Linked DNA regions of Homo sapiens: region 2 is linked to region 1. Evidence: fine-mapped expression QTL. A gene starts in region 1. The other region holds a variant in brackets. All regions are shown on one strand. Distances are from middle to middle.

Region 1 (14,905 bases):
CCCTGTATCTGCCTGTATCTCCTTTCCCTCCGTGAGTTTCAAGGTGGCCACCTTGCTTTTCCCACTGCTGGATCTCCAGCCCCCAGAAACTGCCTGCCATAGAGACCAATGAGAATTCATGAATGAGCTGGGCATGGCGGCGCATGCCTATAATCCTAGCACTTTAGGGGCTGAGGCTGGAGGATCACTAGAGGTCAGGAGTTCGAGAGCAGCCTGGCCAACATAGTAAAACCCCGTCTGTACTAAAATACAAAAATCAGCCGGACGTGGTGGTGCGTGCCTGTAATCCCAGCTACTTGGGGAGCCTGAGGCATGAGAATCACTTGAACCTGGGAGGCAGAGGTTGCAGTGAGCAGAGATTGTGCCACTGTACTCCAGCCTGGGCAACAGAGCAATACTCTATCTCAAAAACAAACAAACATTGGCTGGGCGCGGTGGCTCACGCCTGTAATCCCAGCACTTTGGGAGGCCAAAGCAGGTGGATCACGAGATCAAGAGTTCAAGACCAGCCTGATCAACATGGTGAAACCCCGTCTCTACTAAGAATACAAAAATTAGCTGGGCATGGTGGCACGTGCCTGTAATCCCAGCTACTCATGAGGCTGAGGCAGGAGAATCGCTTGCACCAGGGAGGCAGGGGTTGCAGTAAGCGGAGATCTCGCCACTGCACTCCAGCCTGGGCGACAGAGCAAGACTCATCTCGAAAAAAACAAACAAACAAAAAACAAAATGAATGAAGAGTGGAGATCCCAGGCCGGTTTAGCTGTGTGACATCAGTAAGAGACAGTTTTCTCTTCCATTGTATGGAAAAATAGCCCCAATTGCTGCCTATGCTGTTATCAGGATTCAACAGGCTCCTGCCAGACAGGGCCTGGCACATTCTAGGTTCTCCATAATAGTGAACTGCTCTTATTGTTAGTATTGCTGTGTGACCTGGGGTAAATGGCTTGACTAATCTGTGCCTCTGTTTCCCCATCTGTAAAACAGAGCCCTAACTCACAGGGCGGGCATGGGGACTAAATTACCTAACTAACCTACCATGTTTGGCACATGTCTGGGACATATGAAGCGCTATGCTATGATGTTGAATGTGTATAGGGAAATGCTGGCCTTGTGGGTGCAGACCTGAGAGAGGAGGACCTAGGTTTTAGCAGCTGCACCACTCCCTGTGGCTTGGTCCTCTCCTCTCTAAACCTAGTGAGGACTAACTGAGCTGAGTGACAAGTGTTGGGTACCCAAGACCCTGGGGCCAGGCACAGAAGGGAGGTGATTGAAATTGTCCTGTTTCTTTTTTTTCCTTTTTTGGAGACAGAGTCTCACTCTGTCACCCAGGCCGGAGTGCAGTGGTGCCACCTCGGCTCACTGCAACCTCCGCCTCCCAGGTTCAAGAGATTCTTGTGTGGCCGGGCGTGGTGGCTCACGCCTGTAATACCAGCACTTTGGGAGGCCAAGGCAGGCGGATCACGAGGTCAGGAGATCGAGACCATCCTGGCTAACAAGGTGAAACCCCATCTCTATTAAAAATACAAAAAATTAGCCGGGCGTGGTGGCAGTCGCCTGTAGTCCCAGCTACTCGGGAGGCTGAGGCAGGAGAATGGCGTGAACCCGGGAGGCGGAGCTTGCAGTGAGCCGAGACCACGCCACTGCACTCCAGCCTGGGCGACAGAGCGAGACTCCGTCTCAAAAAAAAAAAAAAAAAAAAAAGAGATTCTTGTGCCTCAGTCTCCCGAGAAGCTGCGACTACAGACACACACCACCATGCCCAGCTACTTTTTGTATTTTTAGTAGAGACGGGGTTTCACCATGTTGGTCAGGCTGGTCTCGAACTCCTGACCGCAAGTGATCCCCCCCATCTCAGCCTCCCAAAGTGGTGGGATTACAGGCGTGAGCCACTGTGCCTGGACTAACTTGTCCTTTTTCTTATTAGGCTCTTCCTGTCTCTGCACCTGAACTGTGAGCCCCTTGCAAGACAGGACCCTGCAGATAGACCAAGGATGTGAACCAGGGCTACTCAGTCTGGACACTATTGACATTTGGGGCTGGATAATTATCTGCTATGTTGTGGGGGCTGTCCAACGCATAGGTGTAGGGTTTGAGCAGCATCCTAGCCTCTGCCTCCTATTAATAGATGCCAGTAGCATCCCATCTTCAAGTTGTGACAGCCAAAAATGTCACCACTGGTGAACAGTGAATTGGTGAATGTGAATTGCATCTCAATACAGTTTTTTTTTAAAGTCTCCATGAATTGCCAAACGTCTCCTGATGGCCCCAAATGAAACACTGATGCAGACAAACAGGTCACAAAGAGGGAGGAAGGAATAAAGATGGCTATAGAAGACATGAACATAGGCTGGGCACAGTGGCTCCCGCCTGTAAACCCAGAACTTTGGGAGGCCGAGGCAGGCGGATCACCTGAGGTCAGGAGTTTGAGACCAACCTGGTCAACACGGTGAAACCCTGTCTGTACTAAGAAATACAAAAATTAGCCGGGTGTTGGCCGGGCACTGTGGCTCACGCCTGTAATTCCAGCACTTTGAGAGGCCGAGGTGGGCGGATCACCTGAGGTCAGGAGTTCGAGACCAGCCTGACCAACATGGAGAGACCCTGCCTCTACTAAAAATACAAAATTAGCCTGATGGTGCATTTCTGTAATTAGTGGTGGTGCATGCCTGTAATCCCAGCTACTTGGAAGGCTGAAGCAGGAGAATCACTTGAACTCAGGAGGCAGAGGTTGTGGTGAGCCGAGACTGCGCCATTGCGCTCCAGCCTAGGCAACAAGAGTGAAACTCTGTCTCAAAAAATAAATAAATAAATAAAATTAGCTGGGCTGGGCATGGTGGCAGGCTCCTGTAATCCCGCCTACTCAGGAGGCTGAGGCAGGAGACTCTCTTGAACCCGGGAGGCAGAGGTTGCAGTGAGCTGAGATATTGTGCCACTGCACTCCAGTCTGGGTGACAGACTGGGACTCCATCTCAAAAACAAACAAACGCCCCAAAAATTAGCCAGGCATGGTGGCACACACCTGTAATCCCAACTACTCAGGAGGCTGAGGCATAAGAATCGCTTGAACCCGTGAGCCAGAGGCTGCAGTGAGCTGAGGTCATGCCACTGCACTCCAGCCTGGACAACACAGCGAGACTCTGTCTCAAAATAAATAAATAAATAAATAAAATTTTTAATTAATTAATTTTATTTTATTTTATAGAGATGAAGTCGCACTATATTGCCCAGGCTGGTCTCCAACCTGGGCTCAAGTGATCCTCTTGCCTCAGCCTCCCAAAGTGCTGGGATTACAGGTCTAAGCCACCATGCCCAGCCACTAAATTTTAATTTCTTTTTTTTTTTTTTTTTTTTGTGAGATGGAGTCTCGCTCTTGTCGCCCAGGCAGGAGTGCAGTGGCGCGATCTTGGCTCACTACAACGTCCGCCTCCCGGGTTCAAGCGATTCTCGTCACTCAGCCTCCCAAGTAGCTGGGATTACAGGTGCCCGCGACCACGCCCAGCTGATATTTTTATTTTCAGTAGAGACGGGGTTTCCCCATGTTGGCCAGGCTGGTCTTGAACTCCTTACCTCAGGTGATCCACCCGCCTTGGCCTCCCAAAGTGCTAGTATTACAGGCGTGAGCCACCGTGCCCGGCCTAAATTTTAATTTCAGAAAGCAAGAAGCAGCTGGGCACGAGGTGGCTCACACCTGTAATTCCAGAACTTTGGGAGGCTGAGGCAGGTGGATCACTTGAGCCCAGGAATTTGAGACCAGCTTGGGCAACATAGCAAAATCTCGTCTCCAGAAAAATAGAAAAATTAGCTGGGCAAAGGGTGCGCTCCTGTAGTCCCAGCTACTCAGGAGGCTGAGGTGGGAAGATCTAGTGAGCCGGAGGAGGCTGAGGCTGCAGTGAGATGTGATTGCACCACTGCACTCCAGCCTGGGAAGAGTGAGACCCTGTCTCAAACAAAAAAAAAAAAAAAAAGAAGAAGAATTGGAAAAGAAAATGTGAAAAAGAGCTCTCCCTGGGAGGCATCTAAACCTCATCACCCACTCTGCATAATTAGCTGCCAAATCTTACTGATCTCACATGCCCATAGGTGGCCCAAATAGAATCCTCCTTGGCAAAATTGTTTTGGGGATGGAGTCTCACTCTATCCCCCAGGCTGGAGTGCAGTGGTGCAATCTTGGCTCATTGCAACCTCTGCCTCCTGGGTTCAAGCAATTCTCCTGCCTCAGCCTCCTGAGTAGCTGGGATTACAGGTGCGCGCCACCATGCCTGGCTAATTTTTGTATTTTAGTAGAGACAGGGTTTCACCATGTTGGCCAGGCTGGTCTACATCTCCTGGTCTCAGGTGACCCACCCCCAGTTCAGCTTCCCAAAGTGCCGGGATTACAGGCGTGAGCTACCGCGCCCAGCGGGCAACATATTTTCAATTTTAACTTTATTTTATTTTTCTTCTTGGCAAAATACGTAGCAGAGGTCTGCGAACCTTCTCTGTAAGTATTTTACTGTCACTGCTCAACTCTGCCACAGTAGCACAACAGCAGCCATAGACAATATGGAAACAAATGAACATGGCTGTTCTCCAACAAAACCTTACTTACTGGGACACTGAAATTTGAATTTTATATCATTTTTATGCACCAAAGAAAAGTTTTCTAGCCAGGTGCGGTGGCTCACAACTATAATCCCAGCACCTTGGGAGACTGAGGCTGGAGAATTGCTTTAGCGTAGGAGTTCAAGACCAGCCTGAGCAATATAGCAAAACCCCATCTCTACAAAAAAAAAAAAAAATTAGCTGGGCATGGGTAGTGTGCGACTAGAGTCCCAGCTACTAAGGAGACCGAGGTGAGGGGATCGCTTGAGCCTGGTAGGTGGAGGCTGCAGTGAGCCATAACTGTGCCACTGTACTCCAGCCTGGGTGACAGAGTATGAGACCCTGTCTCAAAAAAAAAAAAATTCACTCATCCACATTATCTAGCATTGTTAGCACATCATCTGAGTGCCTGCTCTGTGCATGACCCACATTGGGCGGTCTTGGAAACACGTCTAGGACTGAGAGCCCAGTTCCGCCTTTGTGGGCTCACAGTCCAATAGGGGACACAGACCTGTCCTTAGGCAGTGATGACCCAAAGTGAGTAGGGCTGGAATGAAGGAGTCCAGAGGAGACACCTGACCCAGCCTGGGGGATAGAGGGTAGTTTCAAGGGAGCCCAGGAAAGATCCCTATGATAAGATTACGTTTGAGCATAGACCTGAATGAAATTAGGAATGGAGCCATGTGGAGATTCCAGTCAGAAGGAAGAGCAAAATGCAAAGATCATGGAAAGGGTGGCTTTGGGGCGTAGCAAGGCCAGTGTGGAGGAGGTGGGGGCAGGGACAGAGAGAGTGCCTTGTGGGCTGTGATGACAATTTGGGTCTCTACTCTGAGACTGAAGCCACTGGACAGTTCTGAGTGAAGGATGGGCAGAATCTGGCTTAAGGTCCTCAGGATCCTCTGCCTGCTGCATGGACAATAAACGAGATTGAAGGGAGACACTAGGAACGCAATGAGGAGGTCACTGTAGTGGTCCAGGTGGAAGAAGATGGCGTCTAGTATGGGCTGGGGACAATGGGAATGGGGAGAAGTGGTCAGATTAGGCTATGTTTGAAAGGTCGAGGCTGGGCGCAGTAGGTCACGCCTGTAATCCCAGCACTTTTGAAGGCTGAGGTGGGTAGATCGCCTGAGGTCAGGATGAGACCAGCCTGGTCAACATGGTGAAACCTCTCTCTACTAAAAATACAAAAGTTAGCTGGGTGTGGTGGTGCGTGCCTGTAATCCCAGCTACTCGGGAGGCTGAGGCAGAAGAATCGCTTGAACCCGGGAAGCGGAGGTTGAAGTGAGCGGAGATCGTGCCATTGCATTCCAGCATGGATGACAGAGTGAGACTCCATCTCAAAACAACAAAAACAAACAAAAAAAGAAAGGTCAAGAGCCCTCGGTGATGGACAGGATAAGGGATATATAATTTGAGGGAAAGAGCAGCCAAGGGAGACTCCAAGGTTTTTTTTTTTTTTCCTGACAGGGAAGACCACGTGAATGGAATTAAGGGATAGTTGCATTTTCTAATTTTTTTTTTTTTTTTAAGACGGAGTCTCACTCTTGTCGCCCAGGCTGGAGTACAGTGGCATGATCTCAACTCACTGCAACCTCCGCCTCCCGGGTTCAAGCAATTCTCCTGCCTCAGCCTCCCAAGTAACTAGGACTACAGGCGCGCACCACTGCACATGGCTAATTTTGTATTTTTAGTAGAGACGCGGTTTGGCCACGTTGGCCAGGCTGGTCTCAAACTCCTGATCTGCCTGCTTCAGCCTCCCAAAGTGCTGGGATTACAGGCATGAGCCACCGTGCCCGGCCTTGCATTTTCTAATTTTTTAAAAAGCACATTTACTTATTTATTTACTTTGAGGTGAGGTCTCGCTGTATTGCCCACGCTAATCTTGAACTCCTGGACTCAAGATATCCTCCCACCTCAGCCTTCCGAGAAGCTGGGATTACAGGCCCACGCCAACACGCCCTACTTGCATTTTTTATTTTCTCTGACCACTGTCACTCCAATTTAGTCAGGCCTCACCAGCCCCCAGGGTCTTTCCTGAGCCTAGATTAACACTTGAGTTTCAAGAGAAACCCCCTAGTCTCTAGGGTGAGTACTTACTAAATGACTTAGATAGGATTAGAGTGGCCAAAGAATTCTGTTAAATCCCTGGATAAAATGAAATTAAGGGAGGGCCAGTATAGGGCCTTGTTTTCTCCATCAGGAAAAAAAAAAAAAAAAACAAAAAACAAGGGAGATTTGGTCATATTGATGCAATCCCCATTTTTGTAAAGTGGCCAGTGAAGCTGGCAGGTCAAATCTTTCCTCGGGCTGGGTGCAGTGGTTCACACCTGTAATCCCAGCACTTTGGGAGACTGAGGGAGGCAGATCACCTGATGTCAGGAGTTTAAGACCAGCCTGGCTAACATGGTGAAACCCTATCTCTACTAAAAATACAAAAAAAATTAGCTGGATGTGGTGGCACGCATCTGTAATCCCAGCTACGCAGGAGGCTGAGGCAGGAGAATCCCTTGAACCAGGGAGACGGAGGTTGCAGTGAGCGGAGATCACGCCTCTGCACCCCAGCCTGGGCCACAGAGTGAGACTCTGTTTCAAAAAAAAAAAAAAAAAAATCATTTCCTTGGTGCAAGCTGGAGGGTGGAGGAAGAGGGAGCAAACTCTGGTCCTCACCCGTGCCCCATGTAGAAAGGCAGACTGTGGAGCCAAGGTGTGACCTGATAAGAAACTGGTTTAAGAAAGATCACACAGGGTGTGCCCAGGAGGGTAGAGGCAGGCGTTATCCATTGTCCCTGGTGACCTGGCCCCAGAGGCCTTTATCCTTTCAGTCTCCAAGGCAAGGATTTCCGAAGGTTTCAGGGAAAAATGCCCAAGCCCATCCCCCACGACTTGAAAAACTAGTCTGTTAGATTCAAGAGCCCAACACTTAGGTCAATGGCAGGGGCAGGGGTTTCACAGACCTCCCTCCTGGTGGCCCCGGTGCTCCAGAGAGGAGATCAGCTCAGTGGACAAACATTTGGCCAACTCTTCACAATTGCCAGGGTGTGGAACCAGCTGAGTTGTCAACAGAGAAGCCGCCAGACCTAATTAATTAACCAAGGTGTTGACGTGTCCACAGACACACACACACATACAGACATCATCGGCTGCTGAATCTTGATGCAAATTAGCTAAATGGGGCCACCCGAGAGGGTCAGAACCCCAAGCACAGAATCTCTCCCCTCCCCTTCTCCCCTGGGGCCGGTCAGTTTCCTTTCAATTCCGCCCTGACCACCCATTGCTCTCCTTTTCTTATACTAAGTAGGTCCTCCCGGCCCCCAGGCGTCCACTCCCCACACCGCCCTGGGCGTTCGGACTGGACCTTCTTCCCACCTCCAGGCTCAGACTGAGCGAGCGATTCCGCTCCAGGTAAAGCGGGATGACTGCCACCGATGCTTCTGTTATCGTGGCCATTTATTATTTTCCGGAGGGGAAGTTTTTCTCCTTCTCCCTTCTCCTCACCCCACCCGCGTGGGGCATTCCCGCTGCCGGCGATCGGGATCAAACAGTCCCTGATAGGAGCGTCTGGGGACCAGAACGTCCCTCCAGCCGGCGCTGCAGGCGCGGTCCTACCTCTTTCCGTCACTCAGGGCGTTGCACTGGGGTGAGCGTCCAGAGCTGGGGCCGGGGAGAGGGAACCTGCTGGCGACCCCCCACCACCTTGTACTCACCGAGGTCCGCGGCTACTGGTGTCCCCACTTCCGCCGGCGCCCCCGCTGCAGAGGCCCGGGCAGGCCGCAAGCCGCGGAGCCTGGGTTCCGCCCGCGCCGCCGCCACTGCCCCACGTGGTCGCGGGCTGGCTCGCAGGCTTGGAAGCCAGCACAGCCCGGGTCGCCACCTGGCCCGCGGCTTTGCGGGGCACTTGGGACCGATCTTCCTGCCTGCGAGTTGGGGGCGTCTGGGATGCCCATTTTAGGCAGGAAGAAACTGAGGTTCAGAGAGGGGAAGACTTCCTCCCTGCTGGGTTAAGGGCAGAGCTCGGTCTTTGCATCCCCATCCCCCTACACATACCCACTCCTAACCCCTTGCTTCCAGTGGGAACCCCCGCTCCTCTACAGGAAACCTGGAGATCATGGTTTCAGATGCCGCATACTAAGAAAGTAGCTGGGCTGGATCAGAGGCGGTCATTTTGTCCTCCAGCTCTCCCTGCAGTCCCATTTTACAAAGGGGGAAACTGAGGCCTTGAATGGGGAATATGAACCTCCCTATTCCAGGCCCAGTCAGAATTCACTTTCTCCTTGCGGGGTCCTCTTTACGCAGGGATCCTGTGGGCCTTTGCTTTCCACTAGATCACCAAGGCCTAGTGCCAGGTACACAATTTGGTGCTCTGCAAATATCTGTTGAAAGAATATCATCAGACACATAGTAGGTGCGCAATAAATATTTGTTGACTTAACTATGAACGAGTAGGGGTTGTATTTATGAACAAGACAGACTCCCATCCTGCCTCCTAGAACCTACGTTCTAGTGGGGGTAGAAGGGACAGAATAGGGTAAAATGAGCAAATATGTAAACAAGATCCTTCAGGGTTTGATCAAAGTGATGTATAAAGAATAAAATAGGCCGGGCACGGTGGCTCACGCCTGTAATTCCAGCACTTTGGGAGGCTGAGGCGGGTGGATCACCTGAGGTCAGGAGTTCGAGACCAGCCTGGCCAACATGGTGAAACCCTGTCTCTACTAAAAATAGAAAAATTAGCCGGGCATCTGTAATCCCAGCTACTCCGGAGGCTCAGGCAGGAGAATCACTTGAACCCGGGAGGCGGAGGTTGCAGTGAGCTGAGGTCGTGCCACTGCACTCCAGCCTGGGCAACAAGAGTGAAACTCCATCTCAAAAAAAAAAAAAAAAAAAAAGAGTAAAATAAGGGCAATGGGATAGTGGGTGGCTGGGTTGCCATGGAACTTAAAATTGGGTGGTCTGAGGCTGAGTGCAGTGTCTCACACCTGTAATCTCAGCACTTTGGGATGCTGAAGCAGGAGGAGCGCTTCAAGCCAAGAGTTTCAGACCAACCAGGGCAACAAAGCGAGTCCCTGTCTCTATTTAAAAATAATTTTTTTTGAAAAATTAAAAATTACAAAAAAAAAAAGGGTGATCAGAGGAGGCGGCAGTGAAGAAGAAACCACCTCAGATAACCCTCTAGTTCCAACCTGCCCTACCTCCTTTGACAGATGGAGAAAGTGAGATCCAAGAGGGAACTGGGGACAGATGGAGGTCATGGAGTGTAATTTGCAAGGCCTTCAGCAGGGTGGGGCTACTTTAGATACTGTTGGTCAGGGCCCTCTGCTCTCAGGAGGACAATGGAACCCAGACCTGAATAACAATGTGCAGAACTCCAAGAGATCAGCATCTGAAATCAGCATCTGGGCTGAGGACAGCTGGGGGAGGACAGGTTCTTGCCCTGACCTCAGGGGGCTTGCATTGGGTGGGGGAGAGGACAGTCCACAAGCCGTTCTATACTGTCGTGCAGTCGGTGCCAGGAAGAAAAGAATACTCATCAGGGATTGAGGGTGGGGCAGGGTGTCGATGCCACTTCAAACAGTGAGCAGACAGAACTGCTTAGGGGAGGGAAGTTCAAGGAGGCGGAGTGGAGGCAGGTGAGCTGCTTGGCTATTTGGTTTTAATGGCGACTTCTGGTCTAGGAACAGAGTCGATGTGTATGATTACAGTCCTCCTCTGCTCAAAACCCTCCTAAGGCTCCGGTCTCAGGAAAACCAAAAGACCTTAAAGCGATCAAAAGATTGCTTGGATCTGCCCCCATATTTTCACTGAACTCAATCCCCAACCCGTATTGCCTCTCCCTTTCCTTGTAATTCCTCAATGCCCAGGCCCACTGGCTGGGCTTCCTTCCCTCCAGCCTCAGCTCCACCATGCCCTTTCCCATCATAGGGGAGAAAATTGAATCCCTCAACCCCAGTAACCCTCTCCGCCTTTCCAGCTTTCTTTTGCTCCATGGCACTGGTCATCATGAAGGGCCATCTATATTTTACGTAATTATGTTTATAGTGTCTTCCCCCACCGTCTGAACTCCGTGCAAACAAAGATTATCTTCTGTTTATTCCCTCCTGTATTCTCAGGGCTTCAAACAGAGCCTGGCGCACAGGAGGCACTCAGTGAATGCTTGCAAAATGAATTTTTATTGTAATGCATTTAATGAAATAGCCCAGATTACTATCAGGCACCTAATAAGAAACGTGACCGACTATTTTTCTCGCTTGGGGGTGCGTGTGGGCATGCCGTGTCTCAGTTTCACCCGCCCTAAAACGGGATCAGGGATAGCTGTTTCAATGCCTTGTGGGAACTCGGTGTGATTAAATTTGGTCACTAAGCCAAACGCACGGGACACTGCCTAGATTGAGTTAGGCCGCCGTCAGGGCCCCAGCAGGGCGGCTCGGTCCCCTCCCATGAGCCCCGCCCTGGTAGGCGGAGCCACGGGCCCGGCCAGCACGTGTAAGAGTTCGCGGCGGGTCGCCGCAGTCACTCACCTGAGCGCGCACGGTCCGCGCGTCCTCCGCTCGTGCGTCCTCCGCCCGCCCGCCTGCCTGCCTGCCCGCCCGCTCGCTCGCCCGGCCCGCGACTCATGTCCCGCCGCAAGGCCGGCAGCGCGCCCCGCCGAGTAGAGCCCGCGCCCGCCGCCAACCCAGACGACGAGATGGAAATGCAGGACCTCGTCATCGAACTCAAGCCCGAGCCAGACGCGCAGCCCCAACAGGCCCCAAGGCTGGGGCCCTTCTCCCCGAAGGAGGTGTCCTCGGCGGGGCGGTTCGGCGGCGAACCCCACCACTCCCCTGGCCCCATGCCCGCCGGGGCCGCCCTCCTCGCCCTCGGCCCGCGGAACCCGTGGACCCTGTGGACGCCGTTGACCCCGAACTATCCCGGTGAGCACCCCGGGCCCTGGGCCCAGCCTCCCTTACCTTTGACCCTCGGGTGGGACCCTTCCCTTTGGGCATGGGCCCCTCGCCCTGCCTTATCTCCTTCGCCCCGTCCTGCCCCTCAGGCCCCCTTCTGACCTTCGGTTTCCCCTCTCCTTCAGCACCCTCAGCCCCCATCCTGGCCCCACCCCACGCTCACCACCCGCTTCCTCCCTGCAGACCGCCAGCCCTGGACCGACAAACACCCAGATCTGTTGACCTGCGGCCGCTGCCTGCAGACCTTCCCGTTGGAGGCCATCACTGCCTTCATGGACCACAAGAAGCTGGGCTGTCAGCTCTTCAGAGGCCCCAGCCGCGGCCAGGGCTCAGGTGAGTAAAGCCGGGTGCAGTCCCCCTCTCAAGTTCGAGGGCTGGGCTTCCTGCTGGAAAGGGGCTGGGCTGGACGGCAGGGCACTGAGCACTACTTCCCCTTTCTCGCTCCCCATCGGGTGCAGCCTAGGCGTGGCCAGGGCCTGCCCGTCCTAGGGCAGGGACCAGTGGTGGCGGTGGAGGGGGGGCGGGGGGGGACTGGGCAGGGAAGGAGGGCCGCCTACAGGGTGTGGCCAGCCCCAGAAGACTAGCCCGGGATTTTGCCCCCCCCAACACACACCCCAACCTGGTTTCACTTCTCCTTCCCCTTGGCCAGAAATAACTGGCCAGGTGGCTGGACCAGGGTGGCAGTAGGAGGGGACCTCTAGGGAGGGCAGCGGCCGGGGGGAGGGGGAGTGGAGGCCAGCTGGAATGGGGAGGTTGCCACCCCCTCCTGTCTCTCTCTGTCAATTCTGATTGAGGTGCTAGTACAGCTGAGTGTTCAGAGCCAAGGAAGGGGCTTCTGGCTTCCCTCGGTGATGGAATCTCCCAGCCCCGCGTGCTGGGAATCCCCTGGTTTGAGCGAGCTCCCGGGTGCTGGACACCCGGGTTCCTTCTCTTGGGAGGGAATTAAAAGCCTTCACATGGGGCTTGACCCTCGGTGAGCTTTTGGTCAGTGTTGGCTGCAGGGCTTAATCCAAACCTAGTTTCCAGCCCCCTGGCCCTTGCCCTTCTGAGACTTTTGAGAAGTGGAATTATTTAGGGTTGGGCCAGGGAGGGTCTGGTGGTGGGAAAGAGGAGGGGCTTGTGACTGATTGAATCAGCTTTAGAGCTGGAGCATGGAGAGTGGCCTGGAGGAGCGAGCGAGGGGCTGTGATGGAATCGCTGGAACAAAACACTACAGGGCTTGGAGAATCATGGGCACCTTGGTTTCACAGGCTCTGCTGTTTGAGCGCTTATGTGGACCAAAGCTCTCAACCATTCCCCAAGCGAGGTCACAACCACCCTTGAAAGGGAGGGGATCTCTAGGGTCCCTGAATTCTAGCAACTGAGGCACACAGAGGACTATGTCTTGCCCAAGGTCACACAATTAGGGAGCAGAGAAGTCTGAATTTGAATGCAGGCCTGTGCTCTTGACCCAGGACTGGTTGTATCACAAAGGTTGTCCCATCCAAGACTCTAGAATTTGAAAAATGGAAAGGCTAGTTCACCTAGGAAGTGTCCACTGAGAGTACCCCGAAGGTCCAGATAGAAATCCAAATTCAGGTTTGGGGGCTCAATTTGAGATCCATGCAGAGGGTGGGGGACCCAGGTCACTACCACCTCTTTACTAGGTGGCCGCTAAGCTTTCTCTGTAGCTACCCCATTATTTTGAGGTGGAGTCTTACTCTGTCACCCAGGCTGGAGTGCTGTGGTGCAATCTCAGCTCACTGCAACCTCCGCCTCCCAGGTTCAAGTGATTCTCCTGCCTCAGCCCTCCAAGTAGCTGGGACTACAGGCGTGCACCACCATGGCCAGCTAATTTTTGTATTTTTGGTAGAGACAGGGTTTCACCATGTTGACCAGGCTGGTGTCTCAAACTCCTGACCTCAGGTGGTCCACCTGCCTTGGCCTCCTGAAGTGCTGGGATTACAGGCATGAGCCACCATGCCCAGATATCTCAATTACTTTAAAAATTATTTTTATTAAACCAAAAAAAATTTTTTTTTTTGAAACAGAGTCTCGCTTTTGTCACCCAGGCTGGAGTGCAGTGGTGGGATCTCGGCTCACTGCAACCTCCGCCTCCTGGGTTCAAGCGATTCTCCTGCCTTAACCTCCCAAGTGGCCGGGATTACAGGCGCGCACCACCACACCCGGCTATTTTTTATTTTTACTAGAGACAGGGTTTCATCATGTTGGCCAGGCTGGTCTCAAATCCCTGACCTCAAGAGATCAACCCGCCTCAGCCTCCCAAAGTGCTGGGATGACAGGTGTGAGCCACCGTGCCCGGCCTAAACCAAAAATCTTATTCAAAAGCCTCTGCTCCCAGCCAGGTATGGTGGCTCACGCCTATAATCCCAGCACTTTGAGGGGCTGAGGCGGAAGGATTACTTGAGGCCATTAAGTTAAAGAATAGCCTGGGCGGCCGGGTGCGGTGGCTCAAACCTGTAATCCCAGCACTTTGGGAGGCTGAGGCGGGCAGATCATGAGGTCAGGAGATCGCGACCATCCTGGCTAACACGGTGAAACCCTGTGGCGTGGTGGCTGAGGCAGGAGAATGGCGTGAACCCCGGAGGCAGAGCTTGCAGTGAGCCGAGATCGCGCCACTGCACTGCAGCCTGGGCGACAGAGCAAGGCTCCGTCTCAAAAAAAAAAAAAAATAGCCTGGGCAACATAGCAGGACCCCATCTCTTTAAAAAATACTAAATTAAAAATTTAAAGCAAAAAAAAAAAAGCAAGCAAGCCTCTGTTCTGCCCTCTCCCCCTCCCCCAGTAGTCTGGATTGAAATCCCAGCTTCACCCCTTCCAAGCTGTGCAACCCTGGGGAAATGCCTCTCTGTGCCTCAGTTCTCCTGTCTGGAAAATGGAGATCTTATTTTCCTGTCCTGAGGGAAAGCCGGGCTATGAGCCATGGCTCAGCACCTAGCATGTAGGAAGCGCTTACTGAGTTAACATAACTTTTTAAAAGATTTTCAAACACATGGCCCAGCACAGTGGCTCATGCCTATAATCCCAGCACTTTGGGAGGCCGAGGTGGGTGGATCACTTGAGGCCAAGAGTTCGAGACCAGCCTGGCCAACACGGTGAAACCCCCATCTCTACTAATTAGCCAGGCATGGTGGCGGGCGCCTGTAATCCCAGCTACTCTAGAGGCTGAGGCATGAGAATAGCTTGAATCCAGGAGGTGGAGGTTGCAGTGAGCTGAGATCGTGCCACTGCACCCCAGCCTGGGCGACAGTGAGACTGTCTAAAAAAAAATGTTTTCAGGTACTTAGCACCCACTCCACAGATTTTTCGTGTCCACCCCTCCTCTGAGCGTCAGCTTCCTGGTCCTTCCAGGGTGTGTGTGTCTTGTTACTGCCAAGTCCTTT
Region 2 (14,905 bases), 42 kb after region 1:
GAATGAAGACATGATGGCCAGAGCCTCTTAGACCTCGATGCAACACTAGGAAGAGAAGCTGTGCCCAGGAGAACAAAACAGAAGCGGCTTAGGTCCCCGAGCTAACTGGTTACCTCTTGGCTTTTCTGTGGCTAAGAAATAAACATCTATCTTGTTTAAGCCACTGACGGATGCTCTAGGTTTGTTAGAGCCAAAGCTGATTGTCCATGTGACATCCTTTCACATGTGGAAGAGGAAATGGGCTCAGGGAGGCAGTCACTTGCCCACGTCACACTATAGATAAGTGGGATCGCTAGAATTTGAACCCAGAGCCCCATGACTCCCAAATTCTAAGGACTAACCATGATGGGATCTCACCTCCTGGCTGTGTTGCCTTGGGCAAGTCACCTCACCTTTCTTTTTTGAGACAGGGTCTCACTCTGTCACCCAGGTTCCAGTGCAGTGGTGCAATCACAGCTCACTGTAGCCCCACCCTCCCAGGTCTCATCTTGCCTCAGCCTCCCAAGTAGCTGGGACCACAGGCGCATGCCACCAAACCTGGCTAATTTTTTTTTATTATTTTTTGCAGAGATGGGGTCTTGCTATGCCTCATCTTTTTGAACCTCTATTTCTGCATGATAAGGCGCAGGTGAAAAGCTTAGAGAGGTTAAGGGTCAGAGACTGGGTTATAGTGCCAGCTCTGCCCTCATGCTATGTGACTGTAAGCCACGTATCTCCGTGCTCCAGTTTTGTCCTCTGTAAAATGGAAATAGTAAGAACCACCTCCTAGTCTTGGGTGTGGCTTTGATGAAGCGGAGACACAAGCCAAGTAGTTAGCACAGTGGTTACCACAGAACTGCCCAACAGCGTTAGCTGTTATCGTGGCATCACCTTTAACACAGGCATGATCAATACCTACCTCGCAGGCCTGTTCAGAGGACTACTATGCCAAGCTGGTGAGCACTGGGTCTGGCGCACCATGGGCCCTTAATAAATGGCAGCTAGGCTGGGTGTGGTGGCTCACGCCTATAATCCCAGCGCTTTGGGAAGCCAAGGCAGGCGGATCACTTGCAGTCAGGAGTTTGAGACCAGCCTGGCCAATATGGTGAAACCCTGTCTCTACTAAAAATACAAAAATTAGCCGGGCGTGGTGGTGGGCACCTATAGTCTCAGCTGCTTGGGAGGCTAAGGCAGGAGAATTGCTTGAACCCGGGAGGCGGAGGTTGCACTGAGCCGAGATCGTGCCACTGCACTCCAGCCTGGGCGACAGAGCCAGACTCCATCTCAAAAAAAAAAAAGGTAGCTATTCATTCCTGAGTGCTGTGTTCCTAGGCCACTTCTGGGGCCTCAACTATGACCAACAGAGACCCAGGCCTTGCCTTGATGATCACATCTTTCTGACACTATCGGAGATGAGTTCTCCCTTTAGCCCCGTGGTTCCTTCCTGGGTGGCAGAGGTAAGCAAGGAGCTCTCAGAGCTTCCTCTTCTCTGCTGAGTGGAAGTAAGAGCGGTCTCTGTCTCACAGGTGACTGTGGGGATTCAAAAAAAATCCTGCATCTCTCACATGGCCTGGGGGTGCCTGCGAAGGATCAATTAAATGGTTAATTACTATTGTTAATATTGTTTTATTCATCTATTCTTTCAAACCATATTTGATGGACCCAACCCTAGGGTACAAACGTGACCCAAATATAATTAGTCCCCAGTCTCACAGAGCTGGGTATGTGCATATACGTATGAATGGAAAAAATTTTTTTTTTTTTTTTTTTTTTTGGGACGGAGTCTCGCTCTGTCGCCCAGGCTGGAGTGCAGTGGCACTATCTCGGCTCACTGCAAGCTCTGTCTCCCGGGTTCATGCCATTCTCCTGCCTCAGCCTCCCGAGTAGCTGGGAGTACAGGTGCCCACCACCACGCCCAGCTAATTTTTTGTATTTGTAGTAGAGACGGGACACACACACACACACACACACACACACACACACACACACAAAGTATTCCTTATCTGAAGTGCTTGGGATCAGAGGTGCTTCAGATTTTTTCAGATTTTGGAATATTTGTCTATTCATAATGAGATATCTTAGGGATGGCACCCAAGTCCAAAGACCAAATTCATTTATACTTTATAAGCACAGCCTGAAGGTAATTGTATACAATATTTTAAATAATTTTGTGCATGAAACAAAGTTTGTGTAAAGTACTTATATGTGAAACTTTCCACTTATAGTGGGGCATCATGTCAGTATGCAGAAAGTTTCAGATTTTGGAGCTAGCCGGGCGTGGTGGCTCACGCCTGTAATCCCAGCACTTTGGGAGGCCGAGGCAAGCAAATCACTTGAGGTCGGGAGTTCAAGACTAGCCTGACCAACATGGTGAAACCCTGTCTCTACCAAAAGTGCAAAAATTAGCCAGGCATAGTGGCACATGCCTGTAATTCCAGCTACTCAGGAGGTTGAGTGAGGCAGGAGAATAGCTTGAACCTGGGGGGTGGACGTTACAGTGAGCTGACATCATGCCACTGCACTCCAGCCTGGGCGACTAAGCAAGACTCTGCCTCAAAAAAAAAAAAAGATTTTGGAGCATTTCGGATTTTGAATTAGGGATGTTCAACCTGTGTATGCGTATGTGTGTGCGTGTGTGTATACATACATACACACACATATATATATATATATAAATTTTTTTTTTGAGATGGAGTCTCACTCTGTTGCCCAGGCTGGAGAGCAATGCAACCTATGCCTCCCGGGTTCAAGCAATTCTCCTGCCTCAGCCTCCCGAGTAGCTGGGATTACCATTTACTCCTGTATTACTGCCCCAGCCTCTTCCCTGGTCTGCTGGCCTCCAGTCCTGGCTCCTCCAGTCTGTCCTCCCTAGAAGAGTCCAGGAGGCCTTTCTAAAGCACAAAACTGACCCTGTCCCTTCATTGCTCAGAGCACCTCTATGGCTCCTAAGTGCCCTTGAGAGAAAGCCCAGGCTCCTCACCACCTCCAGCTAATTTCTGTATTTTTAGTAGAGACGAGGTTTCATCATGTTAGCCAGGCTGGTCTCAAACTCTTGACCTGAGGTGATCCACCTGCCTTGGCCCCCAAAATGCTGGGATTACAGGCGTGAGCCACCACACCAGGCCCATGTATGTGTATCTTAAGTGTGTTAAATTCCACAAAGGGGAAGGAAAGGGAGCTATGATTATGGCATTTTTAGAGGACACCTGACTGAGCTTGGGAAACAAGACTTCTCTGAGGACTGAGATCTGACAGATAAGCAGTAGTTAACCAGGTATGGGAAGAGCTCATACAAAGGTCCTGTGGCTGGGGAGCGCTTGGGTCAGTGGAGGAATAGCAAGGAGGCCAAAATGACTTGTGCAAAGGAACAAGGCAGAGTGTGGGGTGGTGTGAGTCTGGAGGAAGGGCAAAGGCCAGGCCATGCAGGACCCTAAAGGCCACAGTGAGGAGCCTGGGCTTTCTCTCAAGGGCACTTAGGAGGCATAGAGGTGCTCTGAGCAACGAAGGGACAGGGTCAGTTTTGTGCTTTAGAAAGGCCTCTTGGACTCTTCTAGGAAGGACAGACTGGAGGAGCCAGGACTGGAGGCCAGCAGACCAGGGAGGAGGCTGGGGCAGTAATACAGGAATAACTGGGAAAGGTCTATATAAATGTCATCTGACAGGAACACTGAACCTAGAAAACAGGTGCCATTTCAAGCTGGGATCCCAAGGATACACAGGAGTTAAATAGGTGAGGGGGGGTAATATAGGCCAAAGCCCTGTGGTGGCAGAAATAGAAGGCCAGTGGAGCTGTCCGAGTATGAAGCTGAGTGGTCAGACCACAAGGGTCTTTTAGGCCAGGGATAGTTTGGTCTTCCCCGCAAAAACAACTGAAGCATCAGACAGGAGAGGGAAGTGGTCAGGTTTCACTTAATATTCACTCCTTTTTTTTTGAGACAGTCTTTTTTTTTTTTTTTTTGAGACAGAGTCTCGCTGTCGCCCAGGCTGGAGTGCAATGGTGCTATCTCAGCTCACTGCAGGCTCCGCTCTGCCCCCCTCCCCGGTTCACACCATTCTCCTGCCTCAGCCTCCCGAGTAGCTGGGACTACAGGCACCCGCCACCTCACCTGGCTAATTTTTTGTATTTTAATAGAGATGGGGTTTCACCGTGTTAGCCAGGACGGTCTCGATCTCTTGACCTTGTGATCTGTCCACCTCGGCCTCCCAAAGTGCTGGGATTACAGGCGTTGAGTCTTGCTCTGTCACCCAGGCTGGAGTTCAGTGGCACAATCTCCATGCACTACAGCCTCCTCCTCCCGGGCTCAAGCAATTCTCGTGCGTCAGCCTCCCAAGTAGCTGGGACTACATGCACACACCACTAAGCCTGGCTAATTTTTGTATCTTTAGTAGAGATGGGGTTTCACCCTTTTGGCCAGGCTGGTCTCGAACTCGTGACCTCAGGTGATCCACTTGGGATTACAGGCGTGAGCCACTGTGCCAGGCCAACTTAATACTCACTCCTATTGTGTGCCAAGCCAAATCTCAAGAGTGGCTGAGCTCTTCTGGGAATGGGGAACACAGCAATAAGCGAAACAGACATTCTGGAGGTGGCCAGTCTAACGTCAGGACTGCTCTGAGGGTTACAGAGACTTCCCTTTTTCTTGCTAACACCGGATCGGCACTGGGAGGCCACACCAAACGACACAGTATGCTACAACAAACAGAAGCCCTTGGGATCCCACCAATGATTATCCTCAAGAAAAGATTAATGAATATACTCCTGAGGAAATGAGCCTCTTGTCTTGACATACTTCCAAGCCCAGATTTTACCAGGATGACCAGCTGTGCCCCCCAACCCAGGGTCCCTCACCCCAGACAAAAGGCCAGTTACTCACGATCTTTTCATAATACTCCCGTCTCCGCTCCGCCCTCTTCTTGTAGTCGACCATCATGCCTCGAAGCTTCCGCTCATGCTTCCGAGCCTCGTGCCACATTGTGGTGAGGCCAAGCCTGGGGCCTCAACCTGAGGGATGAAGGGACCAGGAAAGTCAGATGGTCTGTGAAACCCGTATGGGCAGAATCAAAGTCATCTAACAAGTTGGTGGCAGAGTCGATCCCAAACAACACATCTCTTAGCTTCAGGGAGCAGAAGTGAAGCTGCAGAACAGTATGCCAGATGTTCAAGTCCATCCCTAACAACTTCGATCTAGAAGCTTGGGCATTCTGAAAAACCCTCAGGTGATTCTGAGGTGAGCATCACTGGGAAAGGGGTGTCCTAGATTCCACGCGCTGGAGTCGGGAATGAAAGGTTTTGAAACATCAGCAGTGTTTGAAGTAGGGTCAGAAGGCAAACCCTGAGCACTTAAGGCTGGAGCTCAAGAGAAAGAGAAGAACTGAAAAGGCTCCCACTAGGGGCCATGCGTGGGGTTGGGTATGAGTCTGGGTGGTAGAGGGATAAGGAGAATAAGGATGAAGGCAGGTGGAGGAAATCGGAGAAAGCTTTTAAGGGAACAGTGCAGTTGTATGAAGGTGGAGGTCGAGGACAGGTGAAGGGCGTGGCGGAAGATGAAGATGCTAGAGGGAGTGGGAACACGGGGAGGGAGTGTTGCAAGGAGACCAGAGTGAAGCTGAGGTCTAAAGATGGGATCTAGATGGCGGGGTGGGGAGAGCATCCAAAGAAAAAGAGCGTAGAGCCTGAGAGAGGCGGAGCTGGCTGACAGGAGGGCGTGGGCTGAGCTTGGGGGCAGGGCTTGCGGGAAAGGGCGGAGACCGAAGGTTTGGACGGGGCTTGTGGATCGCGTCGCGGCCTGAGGATTTGGGCTGGGTTTTTTTTTTGTTGTTTTTTTTTTTGACAAGGGGGCGGGGCCTGTGATAAGCTGCTGGGCCGAAGGCCGAGTTCGACGCGGCAACTTCTGGCCCACAGCCGGGGCACGGGCTCGGCCTGAGGCCCGTCAGGCCTAATGGGGTGAGGGACGAGCGATCCTCGGGGCCGGGACGCAGCAGAAGCCCACAGCAGCATGGGGAGAGCCTGAGGAAAGGGAGAAGCTGGGCTGAGGCCTGCCCGAAAACCGGGAGGTCGAGCCGCAGCCTGCACTCACCGGCTGGTCGCCGCCTCCCACCGCTGCGCTCGCGCGCGGCCCGCACCGGAAGCGGAAATGAAAGGCCGCGCTAGGGGGAGGGGGCGGAGCATGGTGGAGGGCCGCGCAGCGCACTTCCGCCGACGAGAGAGGCGGGTCCTAGAGTCGAGAGGGGCGGGATCCCGAGGAAGAAGTGGGAGAGCGGAGAAGGGAAGAGCTTGGATGCTTTATCTTTTTATCTTTTTTATTTTATTTATTTATTTAATTTTATTTTTTTGAGACGGAGTCTCTCTTTGTCTCCCAGGCTAGAAGGCAGTGGCGCGATCTAGGCTCACTGCAACCTTTGCCTCCTGGGTTTCAGCTATTCTCCCACCTCAGCCTCCCGAGTAGCTGGGACTACAAGCGCGCGCCACCAAGCCCGGCTAATTTTTGTATTTTTAGTAGAGATGGGGTTTCACCATTTTGGTTAGGCTGGTCTCAAACTCCTGACCTCAGGTGATCCACCTGCCTCGGCCTCCCAAAGTGCTGGGATTACAGCCATGAGCCACCATGCCCGGTCTCATTTTTTATTTTCATTTTCATTTTTTATTTTTTTGAGACACAGCCTCGCGCTGTCGCCCAAGCTGGAGTGCAGTGGTGCGGTCTTGGCTCACTGCAACGTCCACCTCCTGGGCTCAAGCGATCCTCCCACCTCAGCCTCTAGAGTAGCTGGGATTACAGGCGCGCAGCACCACGCCCGGCTAATTTTTGTATTTTTTGTAGAGACTAGGTTTCGTCATGTTGCCCAGGCTGGTCTCAAACTCGTGAGCTCAAGCGATCCTCCTGCTTTGGCCTCCCAAAGTGCTGGGATGACAGGCCTGAGCCCCCAGCCTGGAGGCTTTCTTTGCTACTAAGGGACTAGGGCGTTTCCCAAGCCCAGAACAGACGAAACCCCGGAGGCTCAAAAACTCATCTTTATTGGGAAGACTCTGAACAACCAACCTACCCCCCACCTTCAAGTCTGGGGAGGGAGGGCCAGGAATCTGCCCCCTCCTCCCATATGTACAATCTTTTCCGAATCCTACTGGAGAAGGTGCCCCCACATGTGGGGACAGAGGCAGCTGTAACAAGCTAGTGCACGGGAGCCATGTCCCTTTTCCTCTCCGGACTCAGTTTCCTCATCTGTAAAATGGGCTCAAGGGGAAACCCGTGCAACGGAGCTTCTCGCCAAGGCTGAATATGTCCACTTCAGAAGCATGAGGAAGGGCCAAGGGGATGGGGGTGCTAGACATCCTGGTTGGGATTGCACGGCTCCTCCACCTCCCTCCCCACCCAGTGCCCCTCCTCTGGCATCGCGGGGCTACGTGGCTTCAGGCCCCGGGGATAGGAGGCCGCCCCCAAAGGCCGCCTCGCGGTAATGATTGGGGAACATGTTGCTGCCCACAAGGCTGGCGGTGCCTCCATCCCCGGGGCCCGGGGCCTGGTACGAGTCCAGTGTCAGTGGTTCAGGGCCGGGGGTCTCCCCAACCACGGCCCCGGCACCTCCGCTGCACACAACAGCGCTAGCGTGTGGCGGTGCCGGGGGCAGCAGGTCCAGCATGGTGAAGAGTGTGGGGGCCGTAGGGTCGTAGGCAAAGCCATCGTCCAGGAGGTCAGGCCCGCCAGGGGGCTCCAGGCCGGGCAGGGACACGGTGCCAGAGAAGAAGTCAGGGTCTGGCAGCAGGGCTGACGGCGGGAGGAACGGGCCTACGGGGATGAAGACAAGAGAAGTGTAGTGTGATTTAGGGCTAAC[T/G]TCTGATCAGGCCCTAAATCAAATGCCCTACTCCCTGCAAAATGTGATATCAAGGTGGCCTTTTTTTTTTTTTTTCTGAGATGGAGTCTCATTCTGTCACCCTGGCTGGAGTGCAATGACGTGCTCTTGGCTCACTGCAACCTCTGCCTCCCCAGTTCAAGTTGATTCCCCTGCCTCAGTCTCCTGAGTAGCTGGAACTACAGGCCAGGCATGTGCCATGCCCAGCTAATTCTTATCTTTTTAGTAGAGACGGGGTTTCACCATGTTTGCCAGGCTGGTCTCGAACTCCTGACCTCAGGTGATCCACCTGCTTCGGCCTCCCAAAGTGCTGGGATTACAGGTGTGAGCCACCAAGCCTGGCCTTAGGTGCCCTCTTAATCCCAAGGAGAATCCGTGTGGGACTATCACCATTCTCAGATAATAAGTAAATTGAAGGCCAAGCGTGGTGGTTCACACCTGTAATCCCAGCACAACGTGACGAGACCCTGTCTCTACAAAAAAATTATTTAAAAGTTAGCTGGGTGTGGTGGTGCCCGCCTGTAGTCCCAGCTACCTGGCAGTCTGAGGCAGGAGGATTGCTTGAGCCCAGTTTGAGGCTGCAGCGAAGTATGATCACACCACTGCACTCCAGCCTGGGCAACAGAGCAAGACCTTATCTCTAAAAATAATTAATAATAAGTAAACTAAGGCACTGAGGGAAAGTAAATGGAAGGCTCACACAGCTGTTGTGGAACTGGGGTTGAAACCATGCTCCTACACAGCTGTGGAGAGTTTTCCCTGAGAGTGAGAAAGGAGAAGAGGTTCCAAAGCCCCCCAACATACAGAGACAACCCAAAAAGTGAAATCTCCAGACCATGGGAGACACAAGTTGGGAAGTCACCAGTCCCAAAATTGTCAGAAAAAATAAATGTCATTCTCAGGCATAATGGGGACTTAAGAAAAAATAACAATCAAATCAAAAAGTTTCATTATAAGAGGGATTCTCAGGCCAGGCATGGTGGCTCACGCCTGTAATCCCAGCACTTTGGCAGGCCGAGGCGGGCAGATTACCTGAGGTCAGAAGTTCAAGACCAGCCCGGCCAACATGGCGAAACCCCTTCTCTCCCAAAAATACAAAAATTAGCAGGGCATGGTGGTGGGCACCTGTAATCCCAGCTACTCAGGAGGCTGAGGCAGGAGAATCACTTGAACCTGGGAGGTGGACATTGCAGTGAGCTGAGATTGTGCCACTGCACTCCAGCCTAGGCAACAGGGCAAGACTATCTCAAAAAAAAAGAGGGACTCTCTTTTTGGAACAAGACAAACCTTAGAGACACAAGGGACTATTTTCTAGCCTTCCTTGCAGCCTGATGTGATCATGTGACTAAGGTCTGCTAACTGGAACGTGGGCGTAATGGCTGGAGCTACAACAGCCACCTTGCACCATGAGTTGGCGAACTGAAAATGGCAGAAGCCTCGGTCTCTCGATGATCATGCAGTCACCAGACCATCCCTGGAACACCTACCTATGGACTGTTTTTTGTTTCTTGTTTTTGAGACGGAGTCTTGCTCTGTTGACAGGCTGGAACACAGTGGCACCATCTTGGCTCACTGCAGCCTCCACCTTTTGGGTTCAAATGATTCTCCTGCCTCAGCCTCCCAAGTAGCTGGGACTACAGGCATGTGCCACCACATCCAGCTAATTTTTGTGTTTTTAGTAGAGATGGAGTTTCACCATGTTGGCCAGGATGGTCTCTCTCTCTTCACCTCGTGATCTACCTGCCTTGGCCTCCCAAAGTGCTGGGATTACAGGCGTAAGCCACAGTGCCAGGCCTGTTTTGTTGTTGTTGTTGTTGTTGTTTTGAGAAGGGTCTCATTCTGTTGCTCAGGCTAAAGTGCAGTGGTGCAATCTTGGCTCACTGCAACCTTCACCTCCTGGGTTCAAGTGATTTGTCTGCCTCAGCCTCCAAGTAGCTGGGACTACAGGTGTGCACCACCACACTCGGCTAATTTTTGTATTTTTAGTAGAAACAGGGTTTTACCACGTTGGCCAGGCTGGTCTCAAACTCCTGGACTGAAGCAGTCCACCTGCCTCAGCCTCCCAAAGTGCTGAGATTACAGGCATGAGCCACTTTCAGTCCCTACAGACTATGTATGTGAGACAAGAAATAACGTTCTATCCTGTTGAAGCCCCTGTTATTTTGGGTTTTGCTGTAAATGCAGTTAAATGTGATCATAGGTGGGATGCAGTGGCTCATGCCTGTAATCCCAGCACTTTGGGAGGCTGAGGCAAGCAGATCACCTGAGGTCAGGAGTTCAGGACCAGCCTGGCCAATGTGGTAAAACACCGTCTCTACTAAAAAATACAAAAATTAGCCAGGTGTGGTGGTGTATGCCTTTAGTCCCAGCTACTTGGGAGCCTGAAGCAGGAGAATCGCTTGAACTCAGGAGGCAGAAGTTGCAGTGAGCTGAGATCATGCCACTGCACTGCAGTCTGGGCGACAGAGCGAGACTCCATCTCCAAAAAAAAAAAAAAAGAAAGAAGAAATAGATCAAATTTTAAAACACCACTGAGCTAAGTATGTACTGGGCCTTTTCAAAGGAGTCCCTGAGGCTCTGAGAGGTAGAACAACTTAATGAAGTTCACATAGCAAGGAAATGGCCCAGAAGAGATCAGAACTTCCATTCTGTCTCCAAAGCCCTCATTCTTTCTACTCTATGTTGCTGGCTAAGTGCTGAGTGACTCGCCTTGTGGCTGCTCTTGGAGGGCGTGAAGAGGCCAGAAAAGCAGGGCTGCCACTTACCCTCTGCCCACCCAGGGGACAGGGGCTTATGTGTAGCTGGGACCCACCTGAGCCGTGGTTGGGCAGGAAGTGGTCCAGGATGGCCGGCTTTTTCTTCCGCCGTTTGCTCTCGATGCCATGGGGGTCTGAGGGAAGGCAGAGATGAGGACCCCTGTTCCCCGACAGCCCTTCCTCCCCAGCCTGGGGTGGGACAGGGCAGTGGGGTCAGCTGTCCCCTCCCCAGAACCTGGGGATGGGGGTGGAAAGGGGCAGAGGGCACACACCAGAGCTGTTCAGCTCCCCAAGGACGTCGGGCATCCCCCGTTTCCGCTTCTTGTCCACGCCGTAGCTGTCTGTTAAGGAGATACCAGGGACACACAAGAAGTAATTCATCAATAATAATTAATTCCTTTATTTATTTATTTATTTATTTATTTTTAGAGACAGTCTTGCTCTGTTGACCAGGCTGGAGTGCAGTGGCACGGTCTTGGCTCACTGCAACCTCTGCCTGCCAGGTTCAAGTGATTCTCCTGCCTCAGCTTCCCAAGTAGGAGGGATTACAGGTGTGCGCCACCACGCCCAGCTAATTTTTGTATTTTTTTAGTAGAGATGGGATTTCACTATATGTTGGCCAGTCTGGTCTTGAACTCCTGACCTCAAGTGATCTGCCTGCCTTGGCCTCCCGAAGTGTTGGGATTACAGGTGTGAGCTGCTGTGCCAGGCCTATTTTTTTTTTTTTTAAAGATGGAGTCTTGGCTGGGCGTGGTGGCTCACTCCTGCAATCCCAGCACTTTGGGAGGCTGAAGTGGGCGGATCACCTGAGGTCAGGAGTCCGAGACCAGCCTGACCAACACGGCGAAACCCGGTCTCTACTAAAAATACTAAAATTAGCCGGGCATGGTGGCGGGTGCCTGTAGTGAGTCTTGCTCTGTTGCCCAGGCTGGAGTGCAATGGCACAATCTTGGCTCACTGCAACCTCTGCCTCCCGGGTTCAAGCAATTCTCCTGCCTCAGCCTCCCGAGTAGCTGGGACTATAGGCGCCCACCACCACGCCCGGCTAATTTTTGTATTTTTAGTAGAGACGGGGTTTCGCCATGTTGTTCAGGCTGGTCTCGAACTCCTAACCTCAGGTGATCCGCCTGCCTCAGCCTCCCACAGTGCTGTGATTACAGGCATGAGCCACTGCGCCCGGCCTACACACTGGCCTCTTTGTTGTTCCTGGAGCACCCCAGGCACAATCCGGCCTCAGGACCTTTGCACCTGCTGTTCCAGCTGTTTAAAGCACTCTTCCTCCACTCTCACTATTTCCCTAGAAAACTTCCCTGCTTAGTCATCCTCCTGTCCTCAGCTCAGCTGTCCCCTCCTCCAAGAAGCATTCCCTGACACCTACAGCTGGGTCAGGTACCCCCTCTGGGCAATGTGAGCCCTTGAGCACTTCATTCCAGTCCTGCCCACTCTGGTCATCACTCTGTAGGGACAGGCTGTCCCCTATCCTCAGGACTATAAGCCTCATGAGGACACAGCTAGGGGCCGTGCTGGTCACTGCTGTGTCTCTAGCAATACCGAGCACAGGCCCGGGCATGTGCAGGATGCTGAGGGGAGGAAAGATTAAATACTCTCCAAATGTCACAGGACAGCTACTATTATTTCCATTTTGCACAGAAGAATGAGGCTCAGAGAGGCCAAGGTCACACAACCAGTAAGCAGCAGAGCCAGGATCTGAACACTGTCTTTGTAGCTCTGAGCCTGCATTCTAGTTCTGCCTCTTTCCCATCCCCACTGGGGTCTCCCCAAGGCCAAAGACCTAGTCTCCGAGGTGGTGGGTCACCCTGGGTTGCTGTAGTTACCATGGTCGCGAGGCAGGTACGTGAAAGGCAATGGCTCGCTGCAGACCCCATCGGTGAGCCGCTGCAGGAAGACGTTGACTGTCACGGGCTCGACAATCTCCAGGTCCTCGTAGGGCGGCGTCTTGAACACAATGGCAATCTGGCGGTGCACGTCGGCCTGGGAGAAGTCAGCCCGACCTTCCCAGGAGGCCCTGCTGAACACCACTGATATGTCCTCTGGCAGGAAACGGGGGACATCAGCTAAGCCAGGACATCTGGACCACTGTGCTCCCAACTTGCCCAGCCTCCCCTAAAATCAAGACTAATATTCCCCCTTTTTAAAATTTTTTTTTTTTGAGAGTCTTGCTCTGTTGCCCAGGCTGGAGTGCAATGGCGCGATCTCAGCTCACTGCAACCTCTGCCTCCCGGGTTCAAGCAATTCTCCTGCCTCAGCCTCCGGAATAGCTGGGATTACAGGCATATGCCACCACGCCCGGCTAATTTTATTTTTGGTTTTTTTTTGTTTGTGTGTTTTTGAGATGGAGTCTCACTCTGCCTCCAGGCTGAAGTGCAGTGGCATGATCTCGGCTCACTGCAACCTCCAACTCCCTGGTTCAAGTAATTCTCCTGCCTCAGTCTCCCGAGTAGCTGGGATTATAGGCATGTGCAACCACGCCCAGCTAATGTTTGTATTTTTAATAGAGACGGGGTTTCACCACGTTGGCCAGGATGGTCTCGCTCTCCTGACCTCGTGATCTGCCCGCCTTGGCCTCCCAAAGTGCTGGGATTACAGATGTAAGCCACCAAACCCGGCCTTGTTTTATGTATTTTTATATATATTATCTCATTTAATCCTTATAACAATTTAAGAGGTAGGTAGAATTAATATCCCCCTTGCCAGGCACGGTGGCTCACGCCCATAATCCCAGCACTTTGGGAGGCCGAGGCAGGCGGATCACGAGGTCAGGAGATCGAGACTACCCCGGCTAACATGGTGAAACCCCGTCTCTACTAAAAATACAAAAAAATTAGCCGGGCATGGTGGCAGGCGCCTGTAGTCCCAGCTACTCAGGAGGCTGAGGCAGGAGAATGGCGTGAACCCGGGAGGCGGAGCTTGCAGTGAGCCAAGATCGCACCACTGCACTCCAGCCTGGGGGACAGAGCAAGACTCCGCCTCAAACAAACAAACAAAAGAATTAATATCCCCCTCATGTCCAGGGATCCTCAAGATCACCCTCAGGTGGTTCAGTAAGAGGACTCACAAGACAGCATACAGTCATACTCACAGCTATGATCTGTTATGGCAAAAGGATACCAGGCACAGTCAGCAGAGAAAAAAGGTGCCTGTCCAGGCATAGTGGCCCACACCTGTAATCCCAGCCCTTTGGGAGGCTAAAGCTGGCAGATCACTTGAGGCCAGGAGTTCAAGACCAGACTGGCCAACACAGCAAGACCTTGTCTCTACAAGAAAATTAAAAAATTAGCCAGGCATGGTGGCGCACGCCTGTGGTCCCAGCTATTTAAGAGACAGAGCGAGAGCCTGGTTCTTAAAAAAAAAAACAAAAACGGAAACTGAGGCTTGAAAGTGTTGAGACATCACACAACTGGTAGCGGAAGAGTCAGGATTCATGATGCTACTCTGCCTGCTATTTATTTTTCTTGTCTTACTGCATCGCCCGTCATCACAGTACCTCCATGTACTGAGACTTTATATGTGTCAGTTACATATAGATTGCCTCTAAGTCACACAACAACTCTATGAAGAAGGTACTATTAGGTACCGTATTGTATAAAGACGAAAATGAAGGCACAGAGAGGTGAAGTCACTTGTCCAAGGTCACACAGCTGGCAAGTGTTAGAGCCAAGATGGAAACCCAGGAAGGCTAGAACTCTTCACTACCAACTCTGTTATAACTTGGGGAAGTTACTAGATATCTCTGGAACCAGTTTCTTCACTTTACTTTATTCTATTTTGAGACAGAGTCTCGCTCTATTGCCCAGGCTGCAGTGCGGTGGCACCATCATAGCTCACTGTAACCTCCAACTCCTGCACTTAAGCAATCCTCCTACCTCAGCCTCCCAAGTGCTGGGACTACAGGCACATGCCCCAACATGCCTGGCTATTTTATTTCATTTTTTGAGACAGAGTCTCACTGTGTTGCCCAGGCTGGTGTGCAATGGCATGATCTCGGCTCACTGCAACCTCTGCCTCCCAGGTTCAAGTGATTCTCGTGCCTCAGCCTCCCAAGTAGCTGGAATTACAGGTGTGTTCCACCACACCCAGCTAATTTTTATATTTTTAGTAGAGACAGGGTTTCACCATGTTGGCCATGCTGGTTTTGAACTCCTGACCATAAGTGATTCGCCCACCTTGGCCTCCCAAAGTATTGGGATTACAGGTGTGAGCCACCACAGCCGGCCTAATGCCTGGCTATTTTTTAATTAAAAAGAACTTTTTTTTGTAGAGATGGGGGCTTGCTATGTTGCCCAGACTGGACTCAAACTCCTGGG

The links.
Region 2: its variant is fine-mapped to the expression of GEMIN7 in whole blood (TOPMed, PIP 0.99).

What each region holds. Positions count from the first base shown.
Region 1 is chr19:45,072,663-45,087,567 of GRCh38, reverse strand. GEMIN7 (gem nuclear organelle associated protein 7) reads right to left here and starts at 8,308. Exons shown (of 3, transcript NM_024707.3): 1 at 8,191-8,308; 2 at 7,539-7,661. ZNF296 (zinc finger protein 296) reads left to right here and starts at 11,090. Exons shown (of 3, transcript NM_145288.3): 1 at 11,090-11,492; 2 at 11,706-11,855. The coding sequence starts at 11,195. It overlaps GEMIN7-AS1 (GEMIN7 antisense RNA 1), which reads left to right. Exons shown (of 2, transcript NR_134887.1): 2 at 1,928-2,239. RefSeq lists enhancers at 5,760-6,525, 7,294-8,061 and silencers at 8,231-8,490, 10,894-11,303, 11,394-11,633, 11,964-12,273.
Region 2 is chr19:45,030,260-45,045,164 of GRCh38, reverse strand. It overlaps RELB (RELB proto-oncogene, NF-kB subunit), which reads right to left. Exons shown (of 12, transcript NM_006509.4): 9 at 12,416-12,631; 10 at 10,853-10,921; 11 at 10,637-10,714; 12 at 6,973-7,760. The coding sequence ends at 7,375. CLASRP (CLK4 associating serine/arginine rich protein) reads right to left here and starts at 6,120. Exons shown (of 21, transcript NM_007056.3): 1 at 6,057-6,120; 2 at 4,854-4,981. The coding sequence starts at 4,952. RefSeq lists an enhancer at 5,577-6,446. The variant T/G (reference allele first, on the strand shown) is at 7,807.